Linked DNA regions of Homo sapiens. The protein of the gene in region 1 interacts with the protein of each later gene in a pairwise test. Each region holds a gene or a part of one and is shown in the gene's direction. Other genes may lie near its edges.

Region 1 (7,021 bases):
AAGCTGGGGATTATGAGGCAAAAGGAAAATCCAGAAAAACTAAGGAACCTACCACCATGGCTTGCCTTGGGTCTTGAGCTCCCTAGATGATCATCACCTTTTGGAGTCTCAGGTTTGTTTTATATATAATATCCAGGGATTTTAGTTGTATAAGCAGGAGGAATAGGAAGTATGTCTATTCCATCTTCTTCACTTCTTTAAAAAACACGTTAGTCTGAATATCTTCAAATATCAGTAGTGCATAGAAAATGAATTATTTTTTACTTTTTCTTTTTTACCAACTCTTTCACAGTGTCTTATGCTGAGGTTTAGTTGCAATTACATGTAATGAAATTGAAAATTTTATTTTTTCTCTTAATCTTTATTGCAGATTCTGATGCTCACAGTACCACCTCAAGTGCCTCCCCAGCTCAATCTCCTTGTTACAGTAACCAGTCAGATGACGGCTCAGATACAGAGATGGCTTCTGGTTCTAACAGAACACCAGTTTTTTCCTTTTTAGATCTCACTTACTGGAAAAGGTAAAAGAAACAAAGTATCTCTCTAACCAGCAAACCATCTTAATTATGGGCAGTATTTTTCTACTTCCTTAGCAATTAAATGGCATTTGGCAAACAGTTGGTAACACACGATTGCAGTGGATTAAGCAGGAATTGAGCAGGGAAGTGGGATTTTTGTATGTTCTTCCTATTAAAATTTATTTAAAATAAAAATCACATCAAGGTACCTACATTGCCTATTGCTAGATAAGTGGAGTAGAAAGACAATATGCAGTGGAGAGAATCAGTAAAACTAAGAGTTGGTCCTTCAAAAAGACGTGACCAAAAATATACTAGAGATAAAGTGGATCAGGAAAAGGAGATAATACACATAAGCAATTTTAGGAAAGAGAAAAGAGACTTAGGTATAGATAAAGCAGACATTTAAAAAATAATAGGATATTATAGACAACTTGATGCCAATAAATTTGAACATACAGGTGAAGCAGGTACAGTACTAGAAAAAAGACATGTTGCTAAAGCTGTCTCAAGAAAAAGTGAAAAACGGAGATAATCTCATAATAAATTGATTCAGGCCAGGTGTGATGGCTCACACCTGTAATCCTAGCATTTTGAGAGGCCAAGGTGAGGGGATTGTTTGAGCCTAGGAGGTTAGGTTTGCAGTAAGCTATTTTTGCACCATTGCACTCCAGCCTGGTGATAAAGCAAGACTCTATTTAAAAAAACAAACAAACAAACAAACAAACCACAATAGGCAAGTTGTACTAAACATCCAGGAACAGATGATTGGAGCCTATGCACTGGCTTTTCCAGACTATGGATAAAATAGGGCATAGGCCCCAAGCATTTTTAAGGCTGATATAAGTTTGATACCAAAACAAATATATCATCAGCCACTAGGGTTATTCTAGGTATGTAAGATTGGTTTGAACATGAGACGATCAACTAATATAATTTACCACATTGACAGTTTCTTTTTTTTTTTTTTTTTTGAGACGGAGTTTTGCTCTTGTTGCCAAGCTATAGTGCAATGGCTCGATCTCTGCTCACTGCAGCCTCTGCCTCCCGGGTTCAGTGATTCTCCTGCCTTAGCCTCCCGAGTAGCTGGGATTACAGGTGCATGGCCACCACACCTGGCTAAATTTTTGTATTTTTAGTAGAAAAGGGGTTTCACCATGTTGGTCAGGCTGGTCTCGAACTCCTGACCTTAGGTGATCCACCTGCCTCAGCCTCCCAAAGTGTTGGGATTATAGGCGTGAGCCACCGTGCCCAGCCCACATTGATAGTTTCTAAAGGAAGGTGTTGTCTTCTTAGTGGTGCAAAGAAGGAGTTTGACAAATTTGAACATTCCTTTAAGGTTTAAAAAAAAAAAAGTTTTAGCAAAATAGGAATAGAAGGAAACTTTTTTACTTAGACAACAGGTATCTTACAAAAAGGACAAAAGTACATAATACATAATTGTGATAAAATGAAAGCATTTTCTCTATGATCAGGAACAAATCAAGAGTGTTGACTATCACCATTTCTATTCAGCATTATACAGAAGGTTCTAACCAATACAATATTGGTAGTAGTGTAGTAGTAAACACTTTAGAACAGTGCCTAGTGCATAGTGTAAGTACTTTAAAGTACTTTAAACCACTTTGTTTGCATTTATTTAATCTTTTTTTTTTTTTTTTTGAGACAGAGTTTCACTCTGTAGCCCAGACTGGAGTGCAGTGGTGTTATCTTGGCTCACTGCAATGTCCGCCTCCTGGGCTCAGGCAATTCTCCCACCTCAGCCGCCCAAATAGCTGGGTCTACAGGCACGCACCACCATGCCTGGCTAATTTTTGTATTTTAGTAGAGATGGGGTTTCGCCATATTGGCCAGGCTGGTCTTGAACTTCTAGCTTCAAGTGATCTGCCTGCCTTGACCTCCCAAAGTGCTGGGATTACAGGTGTGAGTTACTGCACCTGGCCTTATTTAGTCTTTATGACAATTCTGTGAAGCATTATGTGAAAACACAGGTACAAAGAGGAAGTACTTTGTTTAAGGTTACATAGTAAGTAGAGCAGGATTTAAATCTAGGCAGTTTGGCATTAGAATGATACATTTTATCATAGTGTTAGGAAATATAAAATAATGTAGTAAAATATCAAAAGCCCTTTGGAGGAGTTATGTAAAAATCATACAATATTGTCGAATAACATTTATTTATGTGTGTGTGTGTGTGTGTGTGTGTGTGTGTGTGTGTATGTATATATATAAATATATGTCTATGTTGAGAGAGAGAGACTCACTCTGTCACTTAGGCTGGAGTGCAGTGGTGTGATCTTGGCTCACTGCAACCTCCGCCTCCTGGGTTCAAGCGATTTTCCTGTCTCAGCCTCCGGAGTAGCTGGGATTACAGGCATGCACCACCACACCCTGCTAATTTTTGTATTTTTAGTAGAGATTGGGTTTCACCATGCTGGCCAGGCTGATAGTGAACTCCTGACCTCAGGTGATCTGCTCGCCTTGGCCTCCCAAAGTGCTGGGATTACAGGCATGAACCACTGCGCCCGGCCGTTGAATAACATTTAAAGACACCTAAATAAATTGAGAGGTATAGCACATTCATAGATATTATTAAACTGACTGTTAGGGAGATGATCACTTTGTAGATTCAGGGTAATTGCAGTCAAAATCCCAACATATTTATGGAACTTTACAAGCTAATTTATAATTTATATAGAAAAGCAAAGGGCCCAAAATAGGCATCTTCAGAAGAAAAAGAAAGATGTGGATAAACTTGCCCTAACAGAAATCAAGACATATTATGAAGCCATGGTAATTAATGTGTTTTGGGACTAGGAATAGAAAAATAAACCAATGGAATAGTATAGAGAGCCTGGAAACAAGGCCACATATGTATATAGCACTTGTTATGTGATACATGATGTGGGGGTGATTGGTGGGCGAAAATGGTCTGTTCAATAAGTGTTGCTAGGATATTAAGAACAACATGGTTATTCATGTGGAAAAATTGGGCTTGGGTTCCCTACCTCACACCATAGACAAACACCAATTACAGATGCATTAAAGTAGAAAATAGATTATGACTTTTGAGTGGGAAAGGATTTTTTTATGACAGAGTACTTAAGCATTTAAAAAAACCTCCAGGTTTAATTACATTATAATTATGAACTTAAATTCATCAAATAATACCATAAAGAAAATGAAATGATATCCAGCACATATATCTGACAAAGGATTAGTATCTGGAATATACAGACAACTCCTACAATGGAAGAAAAAGATAAACCAACAGAAAAATGGACACACTTAGAAAGGAATCATGAAATAACTCATTAAATGATAATGTGTTCAAACTTTTTGAAAATCAAGGAAATACAAAGTAAAATTTCAATGAGATACCATTTTATACTCATTAGATTGGTGAAAAAACTAAAATAAAGTCTATTACCAAATGTTGGGGAGAAGGTATGGAATGATGAGAACACTGTCAGTTATAGGTGTAAATAGTTATAACCATGTAGATAAATGGCCGTTTTTGAGTAAAGTTGAAGACGTTCCCATTCCTATATGCCAGCAATATAAACTAGTAAAAACCTTTAAGATGTGTCCACTGATTTATACATTAAAATAAGAGTAGATAAATAAAACTGTGTTATATATTCACAGGGTAGAATATTATACATGTTAAAATGAAATAAAGCTCTATAACAATATGTATGGATCTCAACGTTGACTAAAACATTGCAGAATACATTGTGATTCTGTGTGTGTGTGTGTGTGTGTGTGTGTGTGTGTGTGTAATGGATAACTGTGCAGTATGATTAGAGATGCCAACATACGGTGAAACCATGAAGTATAAAGAAAAGGGAGTGATAAACCTAAAATTAAGTGGGGAGAGGATGAGATGAGGTAGGATGGGACTGTGGAGGGGCCTGCAGGGGGCTTCATAGGAAATGATCTTTTTTCCCTTAGAGTATGTGGTCTGTAGGCATTCTCATTGTGTTGTCATTTTTGATGCCTTTGCTAACACACACCCTTTTTTGTTTTTTTTTGAGACAGAGTTTTGCTCTGTCTCCCAGGCTAGAGTGCAGTGGTGTGATTTCGGCTCACTGCAACCTCCACTTCCTGGGTTCAAGTGATTCTACTGCCTCAGTCTCCCAAGTAGCTGGGACTACAGGCACGTGCCACCACGCCTGGCTAATTTTTGCATTTTTAGTAGAGATGGGGTTTCGCCATGTTGGCCAGGCTGATCTCGAACTCCTGACCTCAAGTTATCTGCCCACCTCAGCCTCCCAAACTGCTGGGATTACAGGTGTAAGCCACCACACCCGGCCCACACATGTATTTTTATCTACTCAGTATTTAATTAAAAATTACCACTCAAGCACTTAGGAGTTGATAAAGAAAAAAAATTAAATATATATAAAAAATTGCTAGCTGCATCAGCCTGTTTATGGTGGCTGATTTTTTTTTCAAGAGTTGGTGATTTTGGAGGAAATAGTTAACAACATCAGGGGCAGCCTTTGAAACTGACTGCTGTCTTTCAAAATGCCGTCTTCCTCAATATTTGAGAAGATTCCAGTGTGGCCTTTAAGGCAACTGGGTAATTCCCCTTCTCTAGCTAATTGGGGTTACTCTAGGAGCCCTTTCACTTGGAATGTGCAAGATTGTAGAAGCACAACTCTTTGGTTATATTGGACTAGTTATAATAGTGAGTAGATTTCTTTTGTATTCCTATTTTTCTTCCTTATTAATGTATCTTGTTCTCCATTTTTTCTTTTAGACAGAAGATATGTTGTGGGATCATCTATAAAGGCCGTTTTGGGGAAGTCCTCATTGACACACATCTCTTCAAGCCTTGCTGCAGCAATAAGAAAGCAGCTGCTGAGAAGCCAGAGGAGCAGGGGCCAGAGCCTCTGCCCATCTCCACTCAGGAGTGGTGACTGAGGTTTTTATGTAGAAGGGGAACAAAAAAAAAAATATCTGAATTTTGAAAAACCACAAAGCTACAAACTGACCCTCTTTTTTTTTTGAGACGGAGTTTTGCTCTTGTTACCCAGGCTGGAGTGCAGTGGCGTGATCTTGGCTCACTGCAACTTCCGTCTCCCGGGTTCAAGTGATTCTCCTGCCTCAGCCTCCCAAGTAGCTGGGTTTATAGGTGCCCGCCACCAGACCCGGCTAATTTTTTAGTTTTAGTAGAGACGGGGTTTCACCACGTTGGCCAGGCTGGTCTTAAATGACCCTCTTATTTTTAACTTGGATACCTGCTATTCTGCCAAAAGACAATTTCTAGAGTAGTTTTGAATGGGTTGATTTCCCCCACTCCCACAAACTCTGAAGCCAGTGTCTAGCTTACTAAAAAAAGAGTTGTATATAATATTTAAGATGCTGAGTATTTCATAGGAAAGCTGAATGCTGCTGTAAAGTGCTCTTTAAGTCTTTTTTTTTTTTAATCCCCTTCTAATGAATGAAACTAGGGGAATTTCAGGGGACAGAGATGGGATTTGTTGTATGATAAACTGTATGTAGTTTTTAGTCTTTCTGTTTTGAGAAGCAGTGGTTGGGGCATTTTTAAGATGGCTGGCTACTCTTGTTTTCCCTCATGATAATAAATTTGTCATAACTCAGTAACATGAACTTGCCCCTAGAGGTAGTTGTTAATAATTTTGAAATATTAAGGTCTTGCCAAGCTTCTGATGATTCACACCTGTACTACTGATTATTAAGCAGGACAGACTGAGCTTTCTGTTGCAAATACCTTGGAGGAGAAAGTAATTTCTAAATATACAGAGAGGTAACTTGACTATATATGTTGCATCCTGTGCCTCCCTTCATATTAATATTTGATAAAGATTTTAATTTATGTAAAACTTCTAAAGCAGAATCAAAGCTCCTCTTGGGGAAATGGCAAGTCTTTAGGATAGGCAAGACCCTGTATGAATAGTACCAAAGCATTACCGCATGGTAGAGAACACACTCGATTAAAAATGTTAAGCTATCTGAAAAATAAAATGTGCAAGTCTTCAGGATGGCACAAAACAAAGGTTAATGCTTCTTGGGGCACATTTCTTAGAGGGCTTGCTGAGTGTGTAAATATAATCGACTTTTGTTTGTGTTACATGACTTCTGTGACTTCATTGAAAATCTGCACAATTCAGTTTCAGCTCTGGATTACTTCAGTTGACCTTTGTGAAGGTTTTTATCTGTGTAGAATGGGTGTTTGACTTGTTTTAGCCTATTAAATTTTTATTTTCTTTCACTCTGTATTAAAAGTAAAACTTACTAAAAGAAAAGAGGTTTGTGTTCACATTAAATGGTTTTGGTTTGGCTTCTTTTAGTCAGGCTTTCTGAACATTGAGATATCCTGAACTTAGAGCTCTTCAATCCTAAGATTTTCATGAAAAGCCTCTCACTTGAACCCAAACCAGAGTACTCTTACTGCCTCTTTTCTAAATGTTCAGGAAAAGCATTGCCAGTTCAGTCTTTTCAAAATGAGGGAGAAACATTTGCCTGCCTTGTAA
Region 2 (7,716 bases), on another chromosome or scaffold:
AGAGCAAGACTCCATCTCAAAAAAAAGAAAAAAAAAATCAAACCTCACAGCACCCTTCTCCACTGACTCCCCTCACCCCCTGCAAAAAATAAATAAATAATAGAGAAATAAATAAAATAACAGGCACTAAGTAAAGAAACCATACCTTGTTACCCTGACATGAAAGGTCCCTCTTGGACTAAGAATCTCATAAAATAACTGAAACTTCTGTCCACAGACATGCTAAGGGGTAACTTCATCTATTTAAAACCACTATAAAAAGAAAGGGGAAAATGAAAAGATGATTTAGCTTATGAAAATTCCCAAAATAATGCCAGGTGTGGTGGCTCACACCTGTAATCCCAGCAGTTTGGGAGGCCGAGACAGGCGGATCATCTGCGGTCAGGAGTTCAAGACCAGCCTGACCAACATGGAGAAACCCTGTATCTACTAAAAATACAAAATTGGCCGGGTGTGGTGGCACATGCCTGTAATCCCAGCTACTTGGGAAGCTGAAGCAGGAGAATCACTTGAACCCGGGAGGCAGAGGCCGCAGTGAGCCAAAATCACACCATTGCATTCCAGCCTGGGCAACAAAAACGGAACTCCATCTCAAAAAAAAAAAAAAAAAGAAAAAGAAAATTCCCAACCCACCGACCCTGTGGGGCTGGACCCTACATAATATACTGCAAAAATCAGGGCTTCCAGGCAGAAACATCAAATAACTTTCAGGAGCATGAGAATTAGATGGGCCTGAAACTCCTCAAAATCAATAAAAATGAACATAGCAACAACGAAGCAGCATTTTCAAAAATCTCAAGAAAAGGGAGAAAACAACGAACTGTGCAGCCATTCAAGCTTTCCTTCAAGGAATTACAGCTTCAAGAGAGCAGTTTTAAACTTGCCAGAGCTCAGGGGTCCTGCAACTATAGGCCCATCAGGAGGAACCTCCTAGATGGGCTTCCTCCAACCACAAGCTGCTTACGGGTCAGCCGTAAGACCCACGGGGGTGATACATTGAATGGTAGACCCAACATAGAAAGAGAAGTGCAGTCGAGAGGGGAAGAACCATATGTGCTGTGTGTGTTCTGACAAAGTTGAAATGGCATGACTTCAAAAAAAACACCAGGAAGAGGAGGAGGAGTGGGAGGAGGAGAAGGGGGGGAGGAGGAGGGGGAGGGGGAGGGGGATGAGGGGGAGGGGAGGAGGGGGAGGGGGAGGAAGAAAAGGGAAAAGCTCCCGGGTGGTTGTGCAGGCAGTAGGGAAAAGTGAAAGGGCACCATTCAATCCAACAGGCCAGACAGTAAACCACTCAGGAGGAAAGCAGTTCTCTGTCCCTCTCTAAGCTAAGAGACCGAAGTGTTTGTCTCCTGTCCTCAGTCCTCTTCTCTGGTGGCTGTCCCCTGCAGAGCAGACTGGGACCCCACTCACTAGCAATAGGACTCCCACATCGGAACATAGGACTGTGACCCAGAGGTGCCCAGGCAGCCATGAGAGGCAGCCCGCCACCCAGAACAAGAGGCCTGGGCTTCCGGGCAGCTCCAGCCTTTGCAGCACGCAGGCAGGGCACAAAACAGGGATGTGCGAGAGAAATGAGGAGCAGAGACATGGCAGAGCCTGGGGCCCCCAGCCCCTCTTCAGAGAGGCTGCCTCTGTGGGAAGCTCTGCAGGAAAGGGGTCCTCAGCCCTTGGAGCTTCTTTCCATATTTACAGGGTAGCTGGAGCGGGGGGGTCTGGTGACAATGGGAGATTCCGGGCCAGGGAAACAGCCTCTGCCCACATATCACATACCAATGGTGTTGGCACCAAATGGAGTCTCTGGTGGGCCGGCCCAGCCACCACCACGCCTGAAGGGACTGGAGGGGCCACCTGGCTCATTTAGAAGGCAAGGGGCTGTCTCTTTTGAGATAGGGGAAGGACACCTTTCTCCTTCTTCTGCTTTTGTTTTTTGTTTGTTTGCTTTTGTTTTTTTTTTTGAGATGGAGTCTCGCTTTGTCACCCAAGCTGAAGTGCAGTGGCATGATTTCAGCATCACTGCAACCTCTGCCTCCCAGGTTTAAGCAATTCTTTTGCCTCAGCCTCCCAGGTAGCCAGAACTACAGGCACGTACCACCACACCCGGCTAATTTTTGTATTTTTAGTAGAGACAGGTTTTCACCATGTTGGCCAGGCTGGTCTCGAAGTCCTGACCTCAAGCAATCCACCCACCTTGACCTCCCAAAGTGCTGGGGTTACAGGCATGAGCCACTGCGCCCACCCTGCCATTCTTATTCTCAGTCTTATTCTCTCTGTCCCAGCCCCATCAGTCATCAATTGCTCAATAAATATGGATTAGGCACCTGCTATGGGCTATGTGTTGGCCCCCGATAATACAAAGATGAAAAAGACAAGCCCTGACCGAGGGTCATGTGCAGCATGTAACCTGTATGGACAGCTACCCACGCAGCCTTGGCCTAAGGCTGGCAGGGGCGAGGCCGGGGCTGGCACAGAGGAGCTCGAACAGGTGGAGTCTTAAAAAGCAGGAAAGGGTCTGTCAGGCGGAGGCGGAGCGGGGGTGTTCAAGGCCCAGGGTTGAGGCATGCAGCCGATGCTGTGTGGCAGGGCAAGCACTTGCTGCTGAGTCTCCTGGAAGGGGAAAGGGTGGTGAGAGGGGCGGCCTGCAAGTCTGTGCAGGCCCCTTTGCAGCTGCTAAGGGGGCCCAGACCTCATCCTGCAGGACAGGCGTGAAGCTGGGAGGGCCACTGTGGGTTTGCCCGGTAAGTCAGTCCCTCCAGCTGCTGTAGGAGGGGTGGACAGGGGAGCCCAAATGAAGGCAGGGAGACCCCAGGGCAGGGCACAGAAGTAATGCTGGTGAGAGGAGATGGGGTTGCAGCCGGGACAGAGGAAGCAGGCTGGACAAGAGTGGGTGGTTTAAAACATTGGGAGGTAAAAGCAACAGGATGGGAGAGGGGGGTGGGACGAGGAGGGAGCAGAACTGCCTGGTTTTCAACACCTTGCTAAGTCCAGGAGGCAGTTGGAGAGAGGGCTGGGTGGGGGCAGGCAGTTCCTAGGGTGCCACGACACCAGCAGCACCTAAGATCTCCACTCATGCTCACTCAGTCCACACGACACGAGGGCCCAGCACACATCAGGCACCCAGAACAAGAACAGGTGGCTGCCCTCCAAGAGCTGATTTGCATGGGAGTGTGGGAGCGGGGGATAATTAATAATAAATATAATAAGGAAATCATATAGAAAGTGGAAATGGGAAGTGTTGGGGGGGCAGAATGCTGCAGATATCCTAAGGAGATGTGCCAGAGCCAGCCCAATGCCCATCCTTCCCTTGGCTACAGGCGGCACTTGTGACTTGAATCTGAGTAGAACTGGGCCGAGGGGGTGGCATGTCACCCACAATTAGGTTCTGTTCCACAGGACTCCATCTGGGGGTGGGGCTCTCCCACGGACCCTGGGGAAGCGGCCACCCTGTGAACCGCCCACCCTCCCACAGTAGGGACTGGCAGGCAGCCCCCGGGAGCTGAGAGCAGCTCCTGCCGGCCCTCAGTCCTACAGGCACCAGGACATGACTTCTGCCAGCAATCGCATGAGGTGGGAAGTGATCCTTCCCCAGTCCAGCCCCCAGATGAGAACACAGCGGCTGACCAGAGCTGAGGACCCAGCTAAGCCTGGCCTTCTGGCCCACAGAAGCCTTGAGATAATAGGCGGATGTCGTTTTAGGACACCCAATTTGCGGTACGTAGGGAACTAACACGCGGGGCTCTGGCGGGCCTGGCGGCTCAGTGCGATCTGGGCAGGCAGGAAGTGGAGTGAGCACAGCCAGCGGCTGGGAGCACATCCCGGAGGGGCTGCCTGCGGCGGGAGGAGCGGCAGGGGCCACGTGGTGGGGGACGGCTCGCCAGGGCGCGCACGCGGTGGCGGCGGCGGTGGAGGCGTTGCCCGCCTAGCTAGGGGCCCGCGGCCTGGAGAGGCGTCGGTTCTCCTTCCGCGCTGAAGGCGGAGACAGCGACTTCCCGTGGAGGCAAGCCGTGGGCGCCGCGGAGGCGGGGGCTGGGGGTCGGCGGAGGCGGGAGCTGGGGGTCGGCGGGGGCTGGGGGTTGGCGGGGAGCGTCCTCAGGGACAAGTCTCCCAGCACGCGGCCGCGACCTCCCCGTTGGGGGTCTGGAGCCAGGAGCCCACGCGCGTCGGATCCGGAGAGTCTGGTGGGCGCAGCCTACGTGACAGGGTCGGCTCGGGACCGAGCTGCTGGGGACTGGGCCTTGCGGGGCGGGGCCGCTGGGGGCGGGGCATGAGGGTGCCGGTTCGGGGCGGGGCTTTTTGGGGGCGGGACATGGGGCGGAGCCTGGGGGCGGAGCATGTGGGGAGGTGGCTGGGGAGGAACTTTCGGGGGCGGGACACGAGGGCGGAGCCTGAGGGGGCGGGGCATGAGGGGAAGCCGGCTCGGGAAGGAGCTTTCGGAGGCGGGGCCCGCTCGGGGAGGGACCTGATTTCGGGGGAGCCTTCGGGAGGGCGCCTGCCATAGACGACTGTAAAGGGGCGGGGTCAGCTCGGGGAGGACCCTGCGGGCGTGGCGGCAGTTATGGGTGAAGCCTGAGGGGGCGGGGCCTGATCGGGGCGGGGTCTTCGGGGGCGGAGTCGGCTGGGGATGGAGCCGCTCGGGCCGAGCCCTCCACCGCCCACCATCACCGAGTCCGGCCCAGGCTCCTAGCGCGGCCGCCGGAAGGGGCGGGTCAGCGGGCGGGCATTTCCTGCCGGTGCCTAGGGCCGACGGGGACGCTGGCACTGGTGGGGAGCTGTTGGGGGGTCCCGCATCTAGGGCTCTCCTTTCCTGCCTCCGGCCCCCGCGAGGGGCGCGCGCCTCTCCCCGCCCTCCAGCAGTCCTGGTAGGGCCCGGGCGCGTCCGCGCTCTGCAGCGGGAGGTCCTCGTCGCCTCTCGTCTCCAGCCAGGTACTCACTGGGCTCCTGCCTGCCGCCTCCGGCCCAGGACGCGCAGCGTCGGTATGGGCCCCGCCGCCTCCCCGCACCCCGGCGCTCCAGGGATGTGGCAAGACCCGGCTTTGAGCACCTCCCGGGCGCCGGCCCCGAGGCCGACCTAGCTCTGCACGTGGGCCGCGGGGCTCTGCCGTTGAAAGGAGAGCCTCTAACTAGGAGCACGCACGGGACCCTGGCGGGCCCCTCCGCCTGGCTCAGATGCCTGGCATCTCAGGCCTTGGCACAGCTAGCAGGCCCCTGGCAGGCCGTGGACCCAGCAGGCTGTTTTAGTGCAGATTGCCCCTGAATCTCAAGCCCACTAATGTTCCAGTCTCTCCATGAGACCCAGATCCCTGAAAGTAGTGGAGGGAGGCGCCAGGGTGAGTGAGGTTTTCTAGGCAGCCCTTACCGCCCACGGATACCCAGAGCTTCATATTACAAGTGAAGGGTCCTCCGCCCAGAGAGGCGACGGAGCTACGCTGGAGTTGCACGACAGAACCAGAACCCCAGTCTTTAGGGGTGTGGCAAGCGTGGGTTGCGCTGTTTGTAACTAGCTAATCACTCCTGTCTACAGGCCTGTGAGGTGAGGCCAAGAAAATCGCTATGGTCCAATCCGTTTTTGTTTTTTGCGTGTGGGGTTTTTTGTTTTGGTTTGGTTTGGTTTTTTTGTTTGAGACGGAGTCTTGTTCTGTCGCCAGGCAGGAGTGCACTGGCGCGACCTTTGCTCACTGCAACTTCTATCTCCTGGGTTCAGGCAATTCCCCTCCCTCAGCCTCCTGAGTAGCTAGGACTACAGGCACGTGCCACCACGCCCAGCTAATTTTTTGTGTTTTGGTAGGGACAGGGTTTCACCATGTTGGCCAGGATGGTCTCGATCTCCTGACCTCGTGATCCGCCCACCTCGGCCTCCCAAAGTGCTGGGATTACAGGCATGAGCCACCGCGCCCGGCCAGTCCACTCTGCTTTTAAGAAATATTTTATTTCTCAGGGTGGGCAGCGTGTAGAGAAGTGAGTCATTCCAGTCTCTGCCGGTTAGCACCTGCCAGCCTAAGTTGAGTCGACAGAGCCGTTATGGAGAATGTTCCCTGACCACAGTATGTGACTAGGATTTGGAGATAAAAAAGATACGATCCTCGCCTTCAGGAGACCCTGTCGCATAAGGAGACTGCCATGTCAGTGACCAGCCACACGTGCAGTGACAAGTGTCTGGAAGAAGGAACAGTGCTGTACAGCATGGAGGACCCCCACACAGGCCTCGGGCAGCAGCCGTTAGGCTCAGTGGGTTCACAAACCACCCCCCGCCCCGCCGTGGAGTGGAGTCTGCAGAGAGCCAGATAGGTTCCCGCCATGCCCTGGAGAGCTGCCGTTTCTCCAGCTCCGCCCTGCCCATGAGGCAAACAGCTGGTCGACTGGTCTTCTGTGCTGGTTCTTGGTTCTCACCTTTGTTTCCTACCAGAGCTGGACCCCGGCCTCAAACTCCAGCCAGCTTGGGCTGTGATCCTCTATCCTGGGCACCAGGGCCCACCCCCTGCCCACCCCAGCAGAGATGCTGCTTTATGCCTGCATCCTCCCTCAGCACACGTGGCCTTCATCTTCAGTTCTGGCGCCCACCTGATCTGCCTCCTCCCACACGCCACCTCTAGATAGAGCCCTAGAAAGTGATGTTGGCCTGAAACTGAGTCACATTCATCTAAACATTTTCCTGTAGAAAAGACCAGACCCTCCTTGTTGAGATAGGAAATCTGTAGTGAGTTTATGTGTTACCTGCACTCATGAGGGAGAGGAGGGAAGGCCACCAACCTCCTCTCAACAAAGAGAATTCAAAGTATTTATGTGTTGAGTTGTGTCACTTACGACATGCATATCAGCTCCACTTTCTACCTAGGGTCAACCCTGGCCTCAAACTCCAGCCTGGTTGACCAAGAACTAATACAAAGGGTACGGAATATTATTTCTTAGAATATGACTGGGCATGGTGGCTCCCACCTGTAGTCCCAGCTACTCAGGAAGCTGAGGTGGGAAGGATGTGACATGAGGGGTTCTGCTGGCTGCTGTGGTCCATGGCAGGGGGGCAGCCCTGGTTTCATGAACTCAGAACCCAGCCTCTGGGGGATGGAAGCACTCTCCACTGGGCACGTGTGGTCCCTGCAGCCTGTAGCTTCAAAGCACGGTGACTGGTTCCAAGCCCAGTATGGTGGAGAAGGAGACTACGGCAGGAACCAGGGGGATTCGGGGGTGGAGGAGGGAAGCCGCAGGGCAGTTGGTGGGTACATCAGATCCTGTGGACATGGTGTGCAGACCCGGAACCCCGGCAGAGGAGCAAGGATTCCTTGGTGAGCAACTGATCCCTTCATCGAGACAAGGAAAGGCCGGGAGAGAGTCAGGTGGGGCTCCGGGGAGATCAGCAATGCCGTTTGAGACACTCTTGGGGGAACACATGGGAAGGGAGGGGCCGCACCTGAATCCCACATCCCCTGAAAGGCAAACCTTTAATCTGAGGTTCATGTTCTTGCTTCTCCCCAGCACCAAGAGGATGGTGGCCCTTGGCCTCCTGGTGCAGAGCATCAGTCCCACGCTGGGAGTGTGGAGAGGTGCGTGGGAAGCAAGCCATTGAGGAAGTGGGGCCAACAGAGAGGTCAGCAGCCCCTTAGCCCTCACGCTTCCAAGGAACAGAATGATGGAGAAGCCTGCAGGCAGAAAAAAGAAGACGCCGACCCCAAGGGAGGAGGCAGACGTGCAGAAGAGTGCGCTCAGAGAGGAGAAGGTGTCCGG

The links.
Region 2: the proteins of SINHCAF (region 1) and ZFP41 interact in binary tests that used the Homo sapiens proteins (3 or more experiments, as listed by UniProt).

The regions. Positions count from the first base shown.
Region 1 is NC_000012.12:31,281,134-31,288,154, reverse strand, and holds part of SINHCAF (SIN3-HDAC complex-associated factor), read left to right. Parts: intron 1-370; coding exon 371-521; intron 522-5,283; coding exon 5,284-5,443; 3' UTR 5,444-7,021. UniProt on the Homo sapiens protein: Subunit of the Sin3 deacetylase complex (Sin3/HDAC), this subunit is important for the repression of genes encoding components of the TGF-beta signaling pathway.
Region 2 is NC_000008.11:143,242,223-143,249,938, forward strand, and holds the start of ZFP41 (zinc finger protein 41 homolog), read left to right. Parts: upstream 1-4,716; 5' UTR 4,717-4,920; exon of another isoform or gene 4,921-5,527; intron 5,528-7,467; 5' UTR 7,468-7,621; coding exon 7,622-7,716. UniProt on the Homo sapiens protein: A putative DNA-binding regulatory protein associated with meiosis in spermatogenesis.